Regions from separate parts of the Homo sapiens genome. Here all the other regions are linked to region 3. The links come from fine-mapping of genetic effects on gene expression. A gene starts in region 3. Each other region holds a variant in brackets. All regions are shown on one strand. Distances are between the middles of the regions.

Region 1 (5,320 bases), 270 kb after region 3:
CTCTAATCAAGTAGCAGGGAAATGTATTTACTTCTATTCATGAACATCTAAATGCTATTGTTGGTAATTCACAATAATTAGATAAGAATTTGAAATGAAGGCAATATTAAAACTACAATGTGCACAATAATAAAAAGTGTAATGGTGGTTTTGACATTACCATTTCTGGCTGATATTAGGATTGGTGCCAAAAAGAGATTATTTTGGCACTTGAAATATTATAAGAATGATGAATTACATCTACTTGACATTATCATTTATGATGATGCTTATTTCCCTTAATTTTAATTTCGAAGGGTAAGATAAAAGGTTAGTCTTTTTTGGATGATTAAAACACATTTTTAATCTAATTTCCCTAAGCCAAATAGAACGAAGATTTGAGAAGTTATGTGGAAAAGTCAGCAATATTTTTAGATTACTTTATAATGTACACACTGCTACCTTATTTACTTTTCATGTAGTATCTGGGCATATCATTATTTTTGCCATTTTACAGGGGAATGAAGTGAGGTTTAGAGATATTAAGTACAATAATTCATTCAATAGCAAACATTCACTTGGTAGAAAAACCAGGGATAAGGTGATTTCTGTCTCCAAATCTTGTGTACTTTCTATACCACTCTGCTTCTCATTATAATTAACAAATAATCATGATAATTTATACTTAAACATACACTCTACTATCTGTCAAATTACTCATCACCTTAGTTTCTAGTACATATTTCCAAAAAGAGAGTATGGCATGCCTTTCTTCTAAGATTAAGCTTCCTGTAACTGTTATTAAATGTGTTCATGTTTATGATCCATGTTGAATGCTATTCATCGTGTTTCCAGATTTGAGCTCTGGGCAAAGATTAATATGCTCAACATTTATAGATAGAGTCCAGGCTCCTGCTGGAGGGTTATTTCTCAAGTTCTGGCATCTCTGTTGACTTAAGGACCAGTCAACATGAGAAAATGGAGCCCACTAATTTTGGTAAGTTAAAAACATTTCTTTACAATTAACATTTTAAAATTAAAAATTAAACCAATTAAATATAAAGCATAGACTTTCTAAATTTATAGTTTTTTTTTTCATCTTGGTGAGATCACATTGCTTTAACCTTTCCCTAGAATAAAAATATCTGGTTCAGTGATGGATATTTTGAGCTGCTGGTTAGGATTCACATCTTTTTTTTCCTCTTTATTTCTTTAAGACCTCTAATTTGCAGGGGTTTAGGGAATATGTCAAAAGTTCTAGATATTCAGATCAATATATATCTAGTGATTTTTCAGATTTTTTTTTAACTGAAGACAACATTAATTGCTCCATTAGATACGGTTATAAGCAGACCACACTCAGAAGTAGGGAAATCAAGTAAATGTTTTATTTTGGGAGGTGAGGTTGATGGGCCTCTAAATTTACTTTGCAGTTTCATTTAACTCTGTTCTGTATCAGAATTCACACACGATAATAAAATGTTTTATAACATGTAGCATGTAAAACATGTTGTCAGTTTCTGTTTCTTGGTGTGAAGAAAATTATCCAACGTTATAAAAGTTAAACCCTTAGAGATAAACCATTTATATCACAATTTGTTTTTCTTAAGAAACCCTGATATCTTGTCTTTAACATGTGGCAATGTAGTCTCTTGTCCTTGCTGACCATTTCTTTACGTAGTATGCTGAAAATAAAGTTCTCAGAGTCTCCCTCTTTCGGACATTGGTTACATTTTGCCTACCTAGCCTCTTTAGCACTTCAGTTTGATGAATGAAATACAATCTGGTGGGACTCTTTATCAGATCCCCGTCTTCTACAATTTAAGGTGAAATATTTTAATCTTGTGTAGAGGAAAAAAGAGTTAAACAGCTGGCCTTCTGTCTCATCCCAGTGGTAGGCTTTCACCAGCCTGGTCCTGATTTGCCACAAATGCTGGACTTCTGATTCTTAGCCTCAGAAGCTGATTTCATTCCTTCCTATTCCCAAAGGTCCTTCTGTAGCCCGCCATCAATTCTGTAAGCTTTTTTTTTTTTTTTTTTTTT[A/TTA]CCATTTTAATAAGTTTACTTTTATCTAAGTCAGTCAGAAATTGGTTTGGTTGTTTGTAACTAAAGAACTTTAACCTAATTATATTCAAAATAATTGCTATTTTCTGCAACACTGAGTCAACCACATTTTTAAAATGAATACATCAGGATATTTCACTGATTTTTTGGTGAAAAAGCTTAGTAACACCCTTTCTTGCTGCATAGCTAATGATTGTTATTTAAGCGCTAACCCCAACACACCCTTTCTAGACTATGTCATCCCTCAAAGAAAATTGGAGCTAATATTTTTAAAAAGGTCTTTTGTCCTTTAGTATGAAATCTTAGAGTTAAATGTGATAAGAAATCATTACTTTTTCCTCTTAGATAATTAAATTATCTAATTTTTAATTCTTGAAATTTAATTAAAAATTTCTTTGATTGTAATGGATTTTTTAAACTTACCATATTATAAGAACTGATTTATAAAATACATCAGTGGTTTCATCCAAATGCAAGATAATATACATCTATGTTTGTAACTCCACATTTTGTGCCACTGATACTAGGTGATATCCAATAAGTTCATTTCATAAAAGGAATTTTACCAATAACGTAGGTTCTGTTTTCTTTTTAGCACAATATTTTTTATTAACTTTAGAGACTTGTTATGAGCAATAAGCTTTCTCTATTTTCACTAGATGATTGCAATATGAATAATGCTCCTGTAGTTTTGTCTCTTCTCCATCTTTAGTAATACAATCAATTTTTTTTCCGTCAGTAACATATTGTAATATCTCTGGAAAAACACAACTGGTTTACGAAAGAGACCATGTGATTTATTTGAAAATGAAGCAGAAGCCTTTACAATGTTTTACTGAAACTGCCATGGGGACCAGAAGTGAATGGATCGGAGGTCCAACAAAATTCACTATTGAGGCTTACACAAATAACCACAGCTGAAGATGCAATTGTCCCAGCCTATTCTGTATATTCATATTCATCTTGTATGTTTATGATATTATTTAAGCTGTGATATTTAGGTTAATATTTTCTTTAGTACTATTATGTTTAATAAGTCAACTCTAAACTATAATTTCTACTTTCATGATTTAGCAATTTGACATTAGCAATAGTAATGATAAACTGCGGTAGAAACAACAAAAATTCAAAAATAAAAAATGTAAGTAAGAAGGACACAACTACGTGTGCATGTGTCTTTATAGCAGCATGATTTATAGTCCTTTGGGTATATACGCAGTAATGGGATGGCTGGGTCAAATGGTATTTCTAGTTCTAGATCCCTGAGGAATCGCCACACTGACTTCCACAATGGTTGAACTAGTTTATAGTCCCACCAACAGTGTAAAAGTGTTCCTATTTCTCCACATCCTCTCCAGCACCTGTTGTTTCCTGACTTTTGAATGATTGCCATTCTAACTGGTGTGAGATGGTATCTCGTTGTGGTTTTGATTTGCATTTCTCTGATGGCCAGTGATGATGAGCATTTTTTCATGTGTTTTTTGGCTGCATAAATGTCTTCTTTTGAGAAGTGTCTGTTCATGTCCTTCGCCCACTTTTTGATGGGGTTGTTTGTTTTTTTCTTGTAAATTTGTTTGAGTTCATTGTAGATTCTGGATATTAGCCCTTTGTCAGGTGAGTAGGTTGCAAAAATTTTCTCCCATTCTGTAGGTTGCCTGTTCACTCTGATGGTAGTTTCCTTTGCTGTGCAGAAGCTCTTTAGTTTAATTAGATCCCATTTGTCAATTTTGTCTTTTGTTGCCATTGCTTTTGGTGTTTTAGACATGAAGTCCTTGCCCATGTCTATGTCCTGAATGGTAATGCCTAGGTTTTCTTCTAGGGTTTTTATGGTTTTAGGTGTAACGTTTAAGTCTTTAATCCATCTTGAATTGATTTTTGTATAAGGTGTAAGGAAGGGATCCAGTTTCAACTTTGTACATATGGCTAGCCAGTTTTCCCAGCACCATTTATTAAATAGGGAATCCTTTCCCCATTGCTTGTTTTTCTCAGGTTTGTCAAAGATCAGATAGTTGTAGATATGCAGCATTATTTCTGAGGGCTCTGTTCTGTTCCATTGATCTATATCTCTGTTTTGGTACCAGTACCATGCTGTTTTGGTTACTGTAGCCTTGTAGTATAGTTTGAAGTCTGGTAGTGTGATGCCTCCAGCTTTGTTCTTTTGGCTTAGGATTGACTTGGTGATGTGGGCTCTTTTTTGGTTCCATATGAACTTTAAAGTAGTTTTTTCCAATTCTGTGAAGAAAGGCATTGGTAGCTTGATGGCGATGGCATTGAATTTGTAAATTACCTTAGGCAGTATGGCCATTTTCATGATATTGCTTCTTCCTACCCATGAGCATGGAATGTTCTTCCATTTGTTTGTATCCTCTTTTATTTCCTTGAGCAGTGGTTTGTAGTTCTCCTTGAAGAGGTCCTTCACATCCCTTGTAAGTTGGTTTATTGCGGCATTATTCACAATAGCAAAGACTTGGAACCAACCCAAATGTCCAACAATGATAGACTGGATTAAGAAAATGTGGCACATATACACCATGTAATACTATGCAGCCATAAAAAATGATGAGTTCATGTCCTTTGTAGGGACATGGATGAAATTGGAAATCATCATTCTCTGTAAACTATCACAAGAACAAAAAACCAAACACTGCATATTCTCACTCATAGGTGGGAATTGAACAATGAGATCACATGGACACAGGAAGGGGAATATCACACTCTGGGGACTGTTGTGGGGTGGGGGGAGGGGGGAGGGATAGCATTGGGAGATATACCTAATACTAGATGACGAGTTAGTGGGTGCAGTGCACCAGCATGGCACATGTATACGTATGTAACTAACCTGCACAATGTGCACATGTACCCTAAAACTTAAAGTATAATGATAATAAAAAAAAAGAAAATTAAAAAATAAATAAATAAATAAAAATAAAATAAAATAAAATAAAAAAAGGACACAACTGATGTGAATACATGTTTGTTTAAATGAACTACAGCCTGTTAACTGGATGTTAGCTATGATTAATAATCAGCAGAATACTCCTAATATATATGCATACTTTAAGGATAGAGTGATTTCCAAGAAAGTAAAAGAATTCTCTTTGAATTAATAATGTACATACATATGTGTGTGTGTGTATATATGTGTGTGTGTGTATATATATATGTATGTATATATATATATGTTATTGGTTTGGCTTCTCTGGAAAACCCTGACTAATACACCAAGGTCTTTGGTTTCTTCCTGTTATGACTCTGCCTTTCTAAGATCTATTTTAAAAAT
Region 2 (5,320 bases), 43 kb after region 3:
AAATTGTGATGGTAGGATGTCGATTTTAGATCTTTCCCACTTTCTCCTGTGGGCATTTTAGTGCTATAAATTTCCCTCTAAACATGGCTTTAGCTGTGTCCCAGAGATTGTGGTACATTATGTTTTTATTGGTTTCAAAGAACTTACTTATTTCTGCCTTAATTTCATTATTTACCCAGTAGTCATTCAGGAGCAGGTTGTTTAGTTTCCATGTAGTTGTGAGGTTTTGAGTGAGTTTCTTAATCCTGAGTTCTAATTTGACTGCATTTGGTCTGAGAGACTGTTTGTTAGGATTTCTGTTCTTTTGCATTTGCCGAGGAGTGTTTTACTTCCACTTATGTGGTCAATTTTAGAATAAGTGTGTTGTGGTGCTGAGAATAATGTATATTCTGTTGATTTGTGGGGGAGAGTTCTGTAGATGTCTATTAGGTCTGCTTGGTCCAGAGCTGAGTTCAAGTCCTGAATATCCTTGTTAATTTTCTGTCTCGTTGATCTGTCTTATATTGACAGTGGGATGTTAAAGTCTCCCACTATTATTGTGTGGCATCTAAGTCTTTTTGTAGGTCTCTAAGAACTTGCTTTATGAATCTGTGTGTTCCTGTATTGGATGCATATATATATTTAGGATAGTTAGCTCTTCTTGTTGCATTGATTCCTTTACCGTTATGTAATTCCCTTTTTTGTCTTGTTTTGATCTTTTGTTGGTTTAAAGTCTGTTATATTGGAGACTAGGATTGCAGCCTATGCTTTTTTTTTTTTTGCTTTCCATTTGCTTGGTAAATATTCCTCCCTCCCTTTATTTTGAGCCTCTGTATGTCTTTGCATGTGAGATGAGTCTTCTGAATACAGCACATGGATGGGTCTTGACTCTTCATCCAATTTGCCAGTCTGTGTCTTTTAATTGGGGCATTTAGCCCATTTATATTTAAGTTTAATATTGTTATGTGTGAATTTGATCCTGTCATTATGATGCGAGCTGGTTATTTTCCCCGTTAGTTGATGCAGTTTCTTCATAGTGTCGATGGTATTTACAATTTGGTATGTTTTTACAGTGGTTTGTAGCGGTTGTTTCTTTCCATGTTTAGTACTTCCTTTAGGAGCTCCTGTAAGGCAGGCCTGGTTGTAACAAAATCTCTCAGCATTTTCTTCTCCGTAAAGGATTTTACTTCTCCTTCTCTTATGAAGCTTAGTTTGGCTGGATATGTAATTCTCAGTAGAAAATTCTTTTCTTTAAGAATGTTGAATTGGTCCCCACTCTCTTTTGGCTTGTAGGGTTCTGCAGAGAGATTTGCTGTTAGTCTGATGGGTTTCCCTTTGTGGGTAACCCGATCTTTCTCTCTGGCTGCCCTTAACATTTTTTTCTTCATTTCAACCTTGGTGAATCTGATGATTATGTGTCTTGGGGTTGCCCTTCTCGAGGAGTATCTTTGTGGTGTTCTTTGTATTTCCTGAATTTGAATGTTGGCCTGTCTTGCTAGGTTGGGGAAGTTCTCCTGGATAATATCCTGAAGAGTGTTTTCCGACTTGGTTCCATTCTCCCTGTCACATTCAGGTATGCCAATCAAACTTAGGTTTTGTCTTTTCACATAGTCCCATATTCTTGGAGGCTTTGTTCGTTGCTTTTCATTCTTTTTTCTCTAATCTTGTCTTCACGCGTTATTTCATTAAGTTGATCTTCAATCTCTGATATCCTTTTTTTGTTTGATCGATTTGGCTGTTTGATAATTGCGTATGCTTCCCATTGTTCTTATGCTGTTTTTCAGCTCCATCAGGTCATTTATGCTCTTCTATAAACTTGTTATTCTTGTTAGCAATTTGTCTAACCTTTTTTCAAGGTTCTTAGCTTCCTTGCATTTGGTTAGAACATGCTCCTTTAGCTCGGAGGAGTTTGTTATTACTCACCTTCTGAAGCCTACCTCTGCCAGTTCTTCAGACTTATTCTCCATCCAGTTTTGTTTCCTTGCTGGTGAGGAGCTGTGATCCTTTGGAGGGGAAGAGGCATTCTGGTTTTTAGAATTTTCAGCCTTTTTGTGCTGGTTTCCCCCATCTTCGTGGATTTGTCTACCTTTGGTCTTTGATGTAGGTGACCTTCAGATGGGGTTTTTGTGTGGATGTCCTTTCTGTTGATGTTGATGCCATTCCTTTGTTTGTTAGTTTTTCTTGTAACAGTCAGGCCCCTCTGAT[G/A]TAGGTCTGCTGGAGTTTGATGGAGGTCCACTCCAGACCTTGTTTGCCTGGGTATCACCAGCAGGGGCTGCAGAACGGCAAAGATTGCTGTCTCTTCCTTCCTCTGAAAGCTTAGTCCCAGAGGGGTACCCTCCAGATGCCAGCCGGAGCTCTCCTGTATGAGATGTCTGTTGACCCCTGTTGGGAAGTGTCTCCCCATCAGGAGGCATGGGGGTCAGGGACCCAGTTGAGGAGACAGTCTGTCCCTTAGCAGAGCTCGAGCGCTGTGCTGGGAGATCCACTGCTGTCTTCAGAGCTAGGAGGCAGGAATGTTTAAGTCTGCTGAAGCTGCATTCCCAGCCACCCCCCTTCCCCCAGGTGCTGTGTTCCAGGGAGATGGGAATTTTATCTCTAAGCCCCTGACTGGGGCTGCTGTCTTTCTTTCAGAGATGCCTTGCCCAGAGAGGAGGAATCTAGAGAAGCACTCTGGCTACAGTGGCTTTGGTGAGCTGTGGTGGGCTCTGCCCAGTTCAAACTTCCCCGTGGCTTTGTTTACACTGTGAGGGGAAAACCGCCTATTCAAGCCTCTGTAATGGTGGGCCCCTCCCCCACAAAGCTCCAGTGTCCCAGGTTGACTTCAGACTGCTGTACTGGTAGTGAGAATTTTAAGCCAGTGGATCTTAGCTTGCTGGGCTCCATGGGGTGGGATCCACTGAGCTAGACGACTTGGCTCTCTTGCTTCACCCCTTTTCCAGGGGACTGAATGGTTCTGTCTCGCTGATGTTCCAGGTGCCACAGGGGTATGAAAAACAACTCCTGCAGCTAGCTCAGTGTCTGCCCAAACAGCCACCCAGTTTTGTGCTTGAAACCCAGGGCCCTGATGGTGTAGGCACCCGAAGTAATCTCCTGGTCTGCGATTTGCGAAGACTGTGGGAAAAGCATAGTATCTGGGCTGGAGTGCAACATTTTTCACAGCACAGTCCCTCAGGGCTTCCCTTGGCCCACGGAGGCAGTTCACTGACCCCTTGCATTTCCTGGGTGAGGCAATGCCTCACCCTGCTTTGGCTTGCCCTCCATGGGCTGCACCAACTGTCTAACCAGTCCCAGTGAGATGAGCCAGGTGCATCAGTTGGAAATGCAGAAATCACCTGGCATCTCCATTGATCTTGCTAGGAGCTGCAGACTGGAGCTGTTCTTATTCACCCATCTTGCTAGACACCCACAGAAATATTTTTACTTAATTTTAAAAATTTGAGGTAAATGTTATGAAAAAAGTATGGATGTAGTAGGAAAAAACTTAAATTAGTCTGGAAATTTAAGGAGGGTTTCCCTGAGAAGGCATCATTTAAGCTAAAGACAGAAGGTTGAGCAGGGTGAGGAGATTTAAGATTTCCAGGGAGCAGTCAAACAGCTTGTGCAAAGGTCCTAGATCAGGAAGGAGCGTTCAAGGATCTGAATGAAAGAAAGCCAATGAACAGGTACAAAATGAGCAAGAAGGTAGGGGCTCAAAATTAGCAAGGTTAAGAAGCAAGACATTGCTAATGCATCCAGCTTTACAATTTTCTGAATGTTTCCTTACCAGATTGTTGCTTCAAGTTGATTCTATATAGAAATTCTCTGCTGACACCAGTTCTCATAGGATCACCAGAAAGAGAATGAAAGCAAAAGAGTCAGGAAAAATATCAGCAATCACTATATTGAGTGGAGTATCAGATTAAATAGCTCATGGAGGACATGTTGGTATTATTAAAATAGCAATACAAAGCATGATCTTACTGTGTAGAAAGATAGAGCTCAGAGAGAGAAAATGAGAACTTACTGCTTTATTGTAAACTTTTGTATTTATCATTTGGTGGGGAGGAGGTATTTTCTGTATGTACTACATCAATCTTTACAACAAATTTGCAAGTTAGGTATTATTTTTCCTACTTTACAGGCAATGAAATGGGCTCAGGGTATGTAATTTCCCCAAGGTCATATATATAGTGATTTTGTGTTTCTAACCAAGATTTGTCTTATTTCAAAGCCCATGTAATTTTTACTGCACCATACTGCTCTTGTAGGATATTTTAAATGGTAGGGAGAATAATTATAGTGTTAAAAATTGGATGTTTGATCTCAAGCACATATTGCGCGGAATGTGAAGAAAAGCAAAGTGTGTGCTAAGAAATGAATGTGAATGATACAAAAGGAAATAGTTACATGCCTGTGTGAATAGAACCTACTTAACTAGATGGAGTAATATGTTACCACAGCCATCTGCTAAAACGTAACAGCAATATATTGGCAACAACAGGCATCTTTGGTTTGAAAATAGGACTGACTGAGAGGCTGCCCTTGGGAACACCCCACTGAATTTACCTCCAAAGATTCAACATATACTTGAAAGGGATTTAATATATCAAATGAAAGATAAACTACTGCTTCTTGCAAAGTTTCTTTCCTCAATAAGATGAAATGTTGATTATTGCTAAAAGTTTTTCTAAAGAATGTAATAGATATAGACTAAATCTAAAAGATTTAAAAGGATTCAGGCAATCCTTCAGAAAACTTCATCAGCAGTTCTTAATTGACCTTGTAGAGAATTAATTGCATTAACTTCTATAGAAGCAACAGGAATGAATTTATGTAAATTTCTCTAATCACATTGTGCTTTCTATTTTTTTCTGCTATTGCCACCTATGGAAAATGCTTTTGTTGGGTTAGAAGTTAAATATATTAGTAGGCATATTCATGGTTTAAATTTATTTTGAGATGAATACGATATTTTTTCATATTGTGCTAAAAGCCTGGCTGCTACAAAAAATAAGCATATACACATCTTTAGATCTGTGTACTTGTTTATTTCAGACAGAGCTAAGAAAGGTAGAGTATCCTTCAAAGAAAATAAATAAGCTTTTTTCATATTATAAAGAATTAATGGGTGTAAACATAGTTTAATATTAATCATATTGATGCTCAAATTATACTATATTTGTACAGGAGGAGTTTATTCAGGTTGACTCCTGAATCCTCGTGACATGACCCTAGTAGTCCCTATTGCCTTCGTGGATCTCTGGTATGACAAGATGTTATAGGCTCATCTTGAACATTTCCTGTCCCACCTCTGGAGGTAGCTTCTTCTCCAAATTATCCTTGTTCCTCTTTGGGGGAAGGA
Region 3 (5,274 bases):
GAAAGGTCCAAGACAGAACAACGAAGGTAGAGGTACTGGTAAAATTCCTCGGCGAGAAAGCATTTTCTAGGCAAGTATCATGTGACCCTTCTCTGCTTTCTGAGAATGCAGTTCATGGGCACAAAAACAAATATTTAAATCCTCGTACTCTTCCTTCCCTCATTCTATCTGTATTCCTCCTTTGTCTACTAGATACTGTAGACAAAAAATGTCACTATTTAAAAACTTCATAGTTATCTGGGATAATCCAGTAATAAAACAAACTGCACAATCCATTAATTCAAAAATGAGGAAATACAAAAATGGGGGAAAAACTCATTACAAAATTAGAGACACGTACAATAAATACTATGGTAAACATCATGCTACCATTAGTCACTAATGAATGGAAGCTTTCTGCAGTAGCTGTCATCCTCAAAGCATTCCAAATAACTTGAGCAGAGGCTGGGTAATTAAGCAACTTGTTTAGTGCCAAAGGTCTTAGACCTGGACGTTCTCAACCTTTAAAATGGGAACGCTGCCTGTTTTTAAAGTACGATGTGACGTCCTGAATAAGGTAGTGAATGTGAATAAATTTGGGATGAGGTATTAGGATTTGCTCTCGCTTAAGAATGTTTTTAGGGCAGGAGGAAAACATGGTGTGAATGTGTGTGTGCAAGAGAGACATATACTGATTTTTTATGAGATATTCTGAAAGATAATGACCCTTACCTGTGGAAGAGATGCTTGCAAAAACTTCTTGCAGGGAAGGCAGTAGTGTGGCAGGCTCGGCCTTCCAGATGTTCTGCAGCAAGTTACTCACTTTTGTCACCTGGGAGACATATTCCCGCAGCTCTCTTTCCTGGGTGGACACGCACTGGAAATGGCCTATCGTTCGAACCAGCTGTTGACAGAACGTGATGGACAATTTCCCCTTGGGGATGCATTGCACAAAGTCGGTCAGAAGGTCGCTCAGTCGGGCACAGAGCTGCGGCTCCGGCCTCTCACACACCATCCGTAACACCTCTACCTGCAGGAGGCTAAAGAGATCCAGCACCGACGGACAGCTCATAATCAGCTTCAGGCCGTTGTGAATGTAGTCCAGGATGGCTACATCCTTCCTGTCCAGAGAGTGGTAGCCCTGATGAAGGAGGCCCAACACGAAGGTCTTGTTGAAGAAGGACTCGAACTCTGGCCGGTGGTATCGTGCGTAGGCCTCCAGCACCTGGTGCCCCACCTGCCGCTGGAAAGGGTCCTGGCCCTCCAGGATGAGCCGGGTCGTCAGGTCAAACATGGCCTCGCACTGCGCCTCGTCTAGCCAGTGCTCCGCCGATTCCACCACCTTCCGCACAATCACCCGCTTGAGGGGCAGGGGATGCGAGGAACTCACAAGGCCCTCCAGGATCTTGTCCATTGTCGCCACGCTGCAAGGCCAGGGCCAGGGGATAAGGAGCGGGTGGCGGCAGCCCCGAGGTGGGGCAGGAGAGCCCCGGGGCGGAGATGAACTTGGAGCGCCGCAGCAGCAGCGCGACGGGCCACGGCCACCGCCGCCTCAGCAGCCACATTTATGGCGCAGGGAGACCCATCCAAGCCGGGGCGGGAGCTAGCGAGCCTGGAGAGCCTAAGAACCGACACCTGCGGCTGGCCTAAGGCGCCAGAGGCCCGTACTCCGCCGCCGCCCCGGGCCCTCGATCCCACTCAGCATCAGCGCCGAGGGGCCTGTCGGGCCCCCCAGCGGCGTCGGCGGGAGCTCAGGGCCCGGGGCTGCTAGCCGGCGGGTGGAGGAAGCACGCCTCCGAGTTCCGGGTCAGGTGTGGGCGTCCAGTCTCCAGCAGGTCGTGAGAAGAAGCCGGTCCTGGGCTGAGTCAGGAGGCGCTGTCACGGAGAGTGCTGGGATCAGCCGGGGAGAAGAGACCGAAGCGACACCCTTTGACCCGGATTTTGAAGTGCCGGCAAACAGGAAGTGAAGGACCTAAGAACCTCCGGAAGGACCGCCCCTCCGCCCCTCTGCCCCTCCGCCCCTCCGCCTGTCCGCCTCTCTCCTTCTCCCTTGTTCCCTCTCTCCCTCCCTGCTCCCCCACCTCCCTCCCGAGTCGTAGACTCCCTTCCCCCCGGCGCTGGGAGTCTCCTTCCCGCCCCGCCGCGCAGGTGCGGCGACGGCCGCGTCACTGGAGAGTGTGTCGAGTCACAGGCGGTCTTCCGCGCGGAGCGTCCCCGGCGGACGCTGCGCAGATGGCTGCGACTGTAGGATTCTTGCCGGCTAGTCTTCGTCGGTTCCGCCTGCGTCAGGTTACTCGTGAAAACTCGAATAAGTGCTATCGATGTGAAATCCGAGGAAAAGAGCATTTGGGGGAAAAGTAAGGAAAACTCAAAACTCGGATTGAGAAGTCTGCCTTGGCTCATTAATCAAGAATTGCGCTTGCGCGCCTAAATGTGACTGCCTTTATCCTGCGATGTCGGTATTGAAGTAAGAGCAATACTGGCGGCGTACCTAGCATTTAGCGACCATCAGTATCAGTAGCAGGCCTCTAGCAAAGAACCAGTTAGTGAGCTTTGTACCATATCGAAAATTATAAGCCGTCCAAAAAAGTGTGAGAGTAAGGAAAATGGCAGATTAGAATCAAAATATTTTTATACCTGTGTCATACAAGGGTACTTTGAAAATAGAAAACCAGGTGGAAATACCACAAAACTTATTGTATATGTTGACACCGAAGATGGTTTACAATAGGGAAGAACAGGTGCAATCATGCTTGTTCTGTTTCATGCCAAATTCCGAAGATTCACAGTAAGAATTTAATCAGAGGTCTTTATATTGGAAAATATTGCCTAACTGTAGCCTGCTTCAGGCTTGGTTAATATAGTTGTGAAACTAGACATTAAGGCCCTGTAATACAGACAAAACTTTAAAGAAATAGGTCATTTAAAATGTCCCGTAGAAAAATGAACAAAATTCTGTTACTTCAGTTTGCTAAATAGTGTTTTGTTTTTTTACCAAGTTACAAACACGATTACACTAATATATTCACACGTCGATTATGGTAGTCTTAAGAAGAGCAGTTTAGAGGAGACAGGAGCTTGAGTAAAAGGGAACTTAAGACCAAGTTGACTCGTAGGAAGATACGGAAGATAAAAGAGAATTGAGGTAATTAATCTATCAGTCATGCTAGAGACAGGAATGATTTTTCCAATAGGAGGTGAAGGTACACAGATGTTTGTCTTTACTGGGAATAATGCCACAGTGGAAGACAAAGGTAATATAGAAAATAAAATATTAAGAAGGAATTAAGTATTAAGAAGGATCGTGGATTTGAGGTGGAGTGGAGGAAATTTGGAATTAATCTTTGTGCTAAGAAACTAACAGGACGAATGAAGATTGCTGAATAGTACCAGCGAAGTGATTATTCCAAAGTAGACAAGAAAAAAATATTGGTAAATTTAAAACTTGACAGATTACTTTGAATTGTCTATAACATTTTCTTCTTTCTGTTAATATTAGGTCTTGAAAAATTGAATATTACAAAATAAGATGTCTGAGAGAACATAGTGCTATTAGTCCATATAAATTACATGTCATAATATTAGACTTCCAAAAGCACCATGACTCTGTATTTTTAAAATACCTCTTGAATGATAGATGCATGAAATGAAATACTAGGTTTTTATACCAAGATATTCAACGCTTATTTCCTTCTTTTGCCACTGGTTAAAAAATGTATGTAATATGCTCTTTTATAAGATTTCAATTGAAAGTGGCCAACTTTAAATTTATTTTATAGCATAACTAAAAGTTCTATAATAATACCATGTTCCTTTTTAACATTTTAAAATATTTTCAGAAGTCTGTGGAAGATTTTTTTGCAGTGAATCATGCCACTAATCATTGGATTAGTGGGTGCTATTGTAATGGGCTTTAAAATTTCATATAAAGATTTAGTCTAAGGCCTCAATTGCCAACTACATGGTTTTACAAATATGTTAGATCTGAGAATGGAAGCTGAGTGATGGGGATGAAAGAGAAAAAGCACAGGATAAGGAGTGATTGTTTATTTAGCAACCTCTGTGTGCCTGGAACTCAATATATTACACTTTATCCTTAGTTCTCAAAACGGGGTTTTGGAAATAGATGTTAATAGCTACATTTTATAGATAAGGTATTGAAGCCAAAGGAGGTTAAAAAAAATAATCAAGTCTGACTCTAGAGTCTCTATTATTTCCATCATACTATTAGATGAAAAGTGTGTGTATGTGTTTATGTTTGTGATAAGCAAAGAGAAAAGGCAGTTCCAAAAGCAGTGGTTAGAGTTGGCCAACTGCAATAACATTATTGTGAGGTTAGTTTTCTCTTAGGAAATTTATATCACCTAATAGAATCAAAAGCAAACTGATTGTATAGATTAGAGAGGACTGTGATAAATAAACCATCATATGAAGTAATTACAAATAATCCCTGACTTTATGAAATTTATATTCATATGTTTTTTAAGTTGTAAAGAAAAAAAGACTGTAAAGAAACACACCAACCACTTTGATATGGTTTTTGTTTTAATGACTTAAAATGGACATCAAGCTAATCTTACGACACTATTTCATTTAATTTTTTTCACAGTGCAAAGTGAAAGCAAGTTTATTAAGAAAGTAAAGGAATAAAAGACAATTAAAAATTAAAAATATACCATTGGCTACTTCATAGGCAGAGCAGCCTCACTACCCTATTTTAAATCTTCCAGTGCTTCTCCTCTTAAAATTCAAATGGCTACTGTTGACTTTAAGGCCCTCCATCAAGTTGCTCTTGTGTCTTTTCCTACTGTTCTCATTTATTATATGTTTACAGCCTTTTTCTGTTCTCTAGAATCTAAGCTTCATGAGGTCAAAAAGAACCCCTTAATTTTATTAGTTACTTCTATATCTAGCAGTTAGAACACTAGGGTAAACAATCTATCAATTTTTTTTGTCTGTGAGATGAAGTCTCTCACTCTGTTGCCCAGGCTGGAGTGCAGTGGTGTGATCTCAGCTCACTGCAGTCTCAGCTCACTGCAATCTCCACTTCCTGGGTTCAAGCAATTCTTCTTCCTCAGCCTCCTGAGTAGCTGGGATTATAGGCACCCACCACCACACCTGGCTAATTTTTGTATTTTTAGTAGAGATGGGGTTTCACCATGTTGGCCAGGCTGGTCTTGAACTCCTGACACAAATGATCCTCCCATCTCAGCATCCCAAGGTGCTGGGATTACGTGAGCCACCATGCCCAGTTCAATCTAACTATTTTTTGAATGAATGAACTTTTAAAAAATG
Region 4 (5,320 bases), 220 kb after region 3:
TATCAAGTAGTTCCAGATGGATACCTCACTCTTGTTTGCTTTCATTACTGTACGTTGCTCCAGGTTCAGTGCTCTAATTGGTGTCTCTCTTTTTAAGGAGACATGGATTAGGACCTTGAGCTATTTTTTTTTTCTACCAATTCGTTATTTGAAGTGATTAGTTCTCATTCCCATTTGACCTCTACTGTAGAACTTTGGGACTAACAGTACTTGGGTAATTTTTTACATGGTGAAATTTAAAGATAATTTTATCTCAGGTCCACTCCCATCTGTTTTCCAGGATTTTCAGATAAACCACACTCTGTTTACAATGACAGTTTAATAAATATTTTTCCTGGTATTTCCAAAGAGGGGTGCAGGCTCAACAAAGCTAAGTTCTGGCAGAAAATGATACTTCTGATTTTTGATTTATTCTTAAGATGCCTAATATAGGTAGCATTCAATAGTTACAGGATTTACATCCCTTGTTCCTTTTGGTGGGTGTATTAGTTTCTCAGGGCTGCTGAAACAAAGCACCACAAACTGGGTGACATAAAACATGGACATTTATTCCCTCACAGTTCTGGAGGCCAGAAGTCCAAAATTAAGGTGTTGGCAGGGCCATGCTCCCTTGGAAGCCTGCAGGGAAAAATTGTTCTTGGCCTCTGATTCTGAGGCCTCCCCAGCCATGTGGAACTGTAAGTCCAATTAAACCTCTTTTTATTCCCAGTCTCTGGTATGTCTTTATCAGCAGCGTGAAAACAGACTTCTACAGTAAAGTGGTCCCAGTAATGTGGGGCACTGCTGAAAATATGGAAGTGACTTTGGAACTGGGTAACAGGTAGAGGTTAGAACAGTTTGGAGGGCTCAGAAGAAGACAGGAAAATGTGGGAAAGTTTGGAACTTCCTAGAGACTTGCTGAATGGCTTTGCTCAAAATGCTGATAGTGATATGCACAATAAGGTCCAGGCTGAGGTGGTCTCAGATGGAGATAAGGAACTTGTTGGGAACTGGAGCACATGTGACTCTTGTTATGTTTTAGCAAAGAGACTGGTGGCTTTTTGCCCCTGCCCTAGAGTTTTGTGGAACTTTGAACTTGAGAAAGATGATTTAGAATATCTGGCAGAAAAAAATTCTAAACAGCAAAGCATTCAAGAAATGACTTGGGTACTGTTAAAGGCATTCAGTTTTATAAGGGAAGCAGAGCATAAAAGTTTGGAAAATTTGCAGTCTGACTATGGGATAGAAAAGAAATACCCATTTGCTGGGGAGAAATTCAAGCTGGCTGCAGAAATTTGCCTAAGTAGCAAGGAGCCTAATGTTAATCCCCAAGACCATGGGGAAAATGTCTCCAGGCCATGTCAGAGACCTTCATGGCAGCCCCTCCCATCACAGGCCCGGAGGCCCAGGAGGAAAAAGTGGTTTCATGGGCTGGGCCCAGGGTCCCTGTGCTGTGTGCAGCCTAGGGACTTGGTGCCCTGTGTCCCAGCCGCTCCAGCTGTGGCTGAAAGGGGCCAACATACAGCTCGGACTGTGACTTCAGAGGGTGGAAGCCCCAAGCCTCAGCAGCTTCCACATGGTGTTGAGCCTGTGGGTTCACAGAAGTCAAGAACTGAGGTTTGGGATCCTCCACCTAGATTTCAGATATATGGAAACTCCTGGATGCCCAGGCAGAAGTTTGCTGCAGGGACAGGGCCTCATGGAGAACCCCTGCTAGGGCAATGCAGAAGGGAAATGTGGGGTCAGAGCCCCCACACAGAGTGCCTACTGGGGCACTGCCTAGTGGAGCTGTGAGAAGAGGGCCACCATCCTCCAGACCCCATAATTGTAGATCCACCTACAGCTTGGACCGTGTGCCTGTAAAAGCCACAGACACTCAATGCCAGCCTGTGAAAGCAGCTGGGACAGAGACTGCAAAGCCACAGGGGTGGAGCTGCCCAAGACCATGGGAACCCACCTCTTGCATCAGCATGACCTGAGTGTGAGACTGGAGTCAAAGGAGATAATTCTGGAGCTTTAAAATTTGACTGCCCTGCTGGATTTTGGACTTGCATGGCCCTGTAACCCCTTTGTTTTGGCCAATTTCTCCCATATGGAATGGCTGTAATTACCCAATACCTGTACTCCCATTGTATCTAGGAAGTAACTAGCTTGCTTTTGATTTTACGGCCTCAGAGGCAGAAGGCGCTTGCCTTGTCTCAGATGAGACTTCAGACTGTGGACTTTTGGGTTAATGCTGAAATGAGTTAAGACTTTGGGGGACTGTTGGGATGACATTACTGGTTTTGAAATGTTAGGACATGAGATTTGGAGGGGCCAGGGGTGAAATGATATGATTTGGCTGTGTCCCCACCCAAATCTCAATTTGAATTGTAGCTACCAGAATTCCCATGTGTTGTGAGAGGGACCCAGGGAGAGGCAATTGAATCATGGGGGCTGCTCTTTCCTGTGATAGTGAATAAGTCTCACGAGATCTGATGGGTTTATCAGGGATTTCTGCTTTTGTTTGTTCCTCATTTTCTCTTGTCACCACCATGTAAGAAGTGCCTTTGTCTCCTGCCATGATTCTGAGGCCTCACCAGCCAAGTGGAACTGCAAGTCCAATCAAACCTCTTTTTCTTCCCAATCTGGGGTATGTCTTTATCAGCAGCATGAAAACAGACTAATACAGCCTCTTCCAGCTTCTGAAAGCCCCAGACATCCCTTGGTTGTGATAATATAACTTCAGTTTCTGCCTCTGTCTTTCTTCTGTGTCCAATTTTCTCTCTGTCACCAGTCCTATTGGATCAGGGATCACCCTAATGCAGTATGGCTTCATTTTCACTGCATACATCTGCAAATACCTAATTTCCAAACAAGGTCACATTCTAAGGCTCCAGGGGGAAATGCATTTTGTGGGGACATCATTCAACCCAATAGAGGGGTTTAGAAAAGAGATCTACAAAAATTGTATTATAATCATTCTGTAGGAAGGTGAATGCTTCAGAGTGATGTTGTGCAATTTGGAACCCCCTTCACCACTCCCATCACCATCACTTAGTCCTTTTTTACATAGAGTTGACATTAAGGAGTGGACTAATTTCAGTCACTTAAATGCTTTTCTCTGAAAACTTTCTCCAAATACTAGGAAAATGAGTGCTTTGAGGAGAAAAATGGCTTTGATAAAATATTATTAAGGTGAAAACATGAAGAAATGTCCTTTACTGGGTAAACACCCTTTACCTGTGGAAAAAAAAATAAACTG[T/C]GAACATATTTTCAAGGCTTTAATTTGATCCACTTCTCTTCCCCTTAGTAGATGACCTAACCTATTACTTTACTAAAAAGCCAGCTTAAGTGAGCTCTGTCATCACGTGGCACTGCTCTTAGGTCCTTCGGTTTTTCATCCACGGCTCTGACCTCCTCCTCTTTTCTCTCATGCCCTGCCGAGAGGAAGTGCCTGTCTCCTCCTGGCAGAGGCCGACTTTTCCACTTATGCTCTTAATCTAGACCCCTTTTCTTTCTCTGAGATCTTATTCCTTCAATTTTTCTCTTTTTTCTTTGTAAATTTAATCTTCCTCTCTACTAACTCTTTCCTGTATGCCAATAAACACATTTAGGTCTCCATCTTCTGACAGACAACACTTTTTGACTCTGCCGCTAACATTTTTCTCAGGTCTCAACTTTTTTTATACTCTAAGCAGCATTTGACATCTTAACCATCTCCTCTATGATCTTTCTTTTCCCCATCTCTCATTTCTTTTTACCTTACTAATATTTCCCCCCTCTCTCCTTCACAGAGTCCCCTCTCTCATACTGTGTCTTAAAATGGAAGTAATCCAAGATTTTCTCCTCAAAACTTAAAAAAAAATTCTTTGATGATTTCTTCCTCTCTCACATCTTCAATTAATATCTTCCAAACCTAAACTTTTTACTCCCAATTTTTCATAATGCCCAGAAGACACAATAGCTGTAGCAATAAAAACAGTATTAGTTACTGTTTAATGAGTATCTGAGATGTGCTATCCATAGTGCTTTTCCTTTTCTTTTTTTCTTTTTCTTTGCTTTTCTTTTTTTCTTTTTTTTTTTTGAGACAGAGTCTCACTCTGTCGCCCAGGCTGAAGTGCAGTGGTGCGATCTCGGTTCACTGCAAGCTCCACCTCCCAGGTTCACGCCATTCTCCTGCCTCAGCCTCCTGAGTAGCTGGGACTACAGGTGCACGCCACCACACCCGGCTAATTTTTTGTATTTTTAGTAGAGATGGGGTTTCACCGTGTTAGCCAGGATGATCTCGATCTCCTGACCTTGTGATCTGCCCGTCTCAGACTCCCAAAGTGCTGGGGTTACAGGCATGAGCCACCGCGCCTGGCCTTCCTTTTTAAAAAAAAAAAAAAATATTATCTTATTTAATTCCCCTGTAAAGTATGTAAGTTGGATGTTATTACTCACATTTTTTCAGAGAAGAAAACAGGCTTGAGACATTAAGCTGTTTTCTCAAAGCCACATAGTAAAAAATCAAAAGTTCTCTGCACAGACTCTAGAAACATCTTAATAAGCCCACTGCATCTGCCTTACTTCCTATTTTTTGTTAATTACAACACTTGACTCCTTATTTTATTAATTTCAGGGCTCAGGTTCTAAATGTTAGGGTTTTCCTCCATCTTCTCCTTCATAGGACTCTTCACATCATAGCATAGTTACTTGTCAAGTTGTTCCTAATGTCTTGAATCTAGCCCTTCTTCTTCAGTTTGAACATTGCCACACTGTTTCAATCCTACCTTGTGTCTTATCTATTACAAAAGTACCTTTATTGTTATTACTCCCTTTTGCATCCTGTACTTAATGCTCTTACATGATTAGCCTTCCAGAAGCCCAGCTAGAGAGTGTCATTCAGTTTCTTGTGGTTCTTCAAAATTTTCTGCTGAATTAGATACTGACGCCTCAGACTAGAGGCGATATATAACAAATTAGAGTTTATTCCTATGATAAAATGAGAAAGTACACATAAAGTACCAGCGTCATGCTTGCATATAGAAAGGGCTTCATAAATATTTTATAATTATAACAACTTTGTGCTCTTCACAATGTAATCTAAACTTACTCTTCCAGCTTATGTGTTCCAAAGCCTTCCCACCATACCTTCTATTCTAACAGGACAAAATAAGATGTATCAATTTTTCTGCTGTAGTGCTTTTATTTATGTTGTTTTCTTTCCTGAAGTGTTGCCCTCCTTTCTTTTCATTGTTTATTTCTGCATTTGAAATCCTATCAATTACAGGTCTTTCTCAAAGGCCATCCTAATGAAAGTTTATTTTCCTGAGTGAGTAATTTTTGGTCCAAACTGATAAAACTGTTTCCTTCTATA

Alleles and levels. Positions count from the first base shown, and alleles are read on the strand shown. Sizes are in standard deviations (SD) of each study's normalised expression. Not every link is listed here.
As copies of A replace TTA in region 1, the expression in CD8 T cells of the gene that starts at base 1,927 in region 3 goes down (large effect, 1.0 SD a copy in Kasela 2017).

What was found. PIP is the estimated chance that this variant, and not a neighbour inherited with it, causes the effect. A credible set is the group of variants that fine-mapping cannot tell apart.
Region 1: its variant is the best candidate, but not a certain one, in a credible set for the expression of USP38 in CD8 T cells (Kasela 2017, PIP 0.57).
Region 2: its variant is the best candidate, but not a certain one, in a credible set for the expression of USP38 in whole blood (INTERVAL, PIP 0.80).
Region 4: its variant is the best candidate, but not a certain one, in a credible set for the expression of USP38 in whole blood (INTERVAL, PIP 0.63).

What each region holds. Positions count from the first base shown.
Region 1 is chr4:142,914,248-142,919,567 of GRCh38, reverse strand. The region is part of intron 3 of USP38-DT (USP38 divergent transcript); the gene reads left to right. Among named protein-coding and RNA genes, the nearest start is that of INPP4B, 71 kb to the right of the region's middle. The variant A/TTA (reference allele first, on the strand shown) is at 2,023.
Region 2 is chr4:143,138,129-143,143,448 of GRCh38, reverse strand. All of the region lies in intron 1 of USP38-DT (USP38 divergent transcript), which reads left to right. Among named protein-coding and RNA genes, the nearest start is that of USP38-DT, 44 kb to the left of the region's middle. The variant G/A (reference allele first, on the strand shown) is at 2,185.
Region 3 is chr4:143,181,570-143,186,843 of GRCh38, reverse strand. It overlaps USP38 (ubiquitin specific peptidase 38), which reads right to left and starts at 1,927. Exons shown (of 10, transcript NM_032557.6): 1 at 712-1,927. The coding sequence starts at 1,393. It overlaps USP38-DT (USP38 divergent transcript), which reads left to right and starts at 1,983. Exons shown (of 4, transcript NR_185979.1): 1 at 1,983-2,336. RefSeq lists silencers at 1,536-1,785, 2,006-2,055 and enhancers at 1,107-1,991, 1,992-2,877.
Region 4 is chr4:142,962,517-142,967,836 of GRCh38, reverse strand. All of the region lies in intron 1 of USP38-DT (USP38 divergent transcript), which reads left to right. Among named protein-coding and RNA genes, the nearest start is that of INPP4B, 120 kb to the right of the region's middle. The variant T/C (reference allele first, on the strand shown) is at 3,224.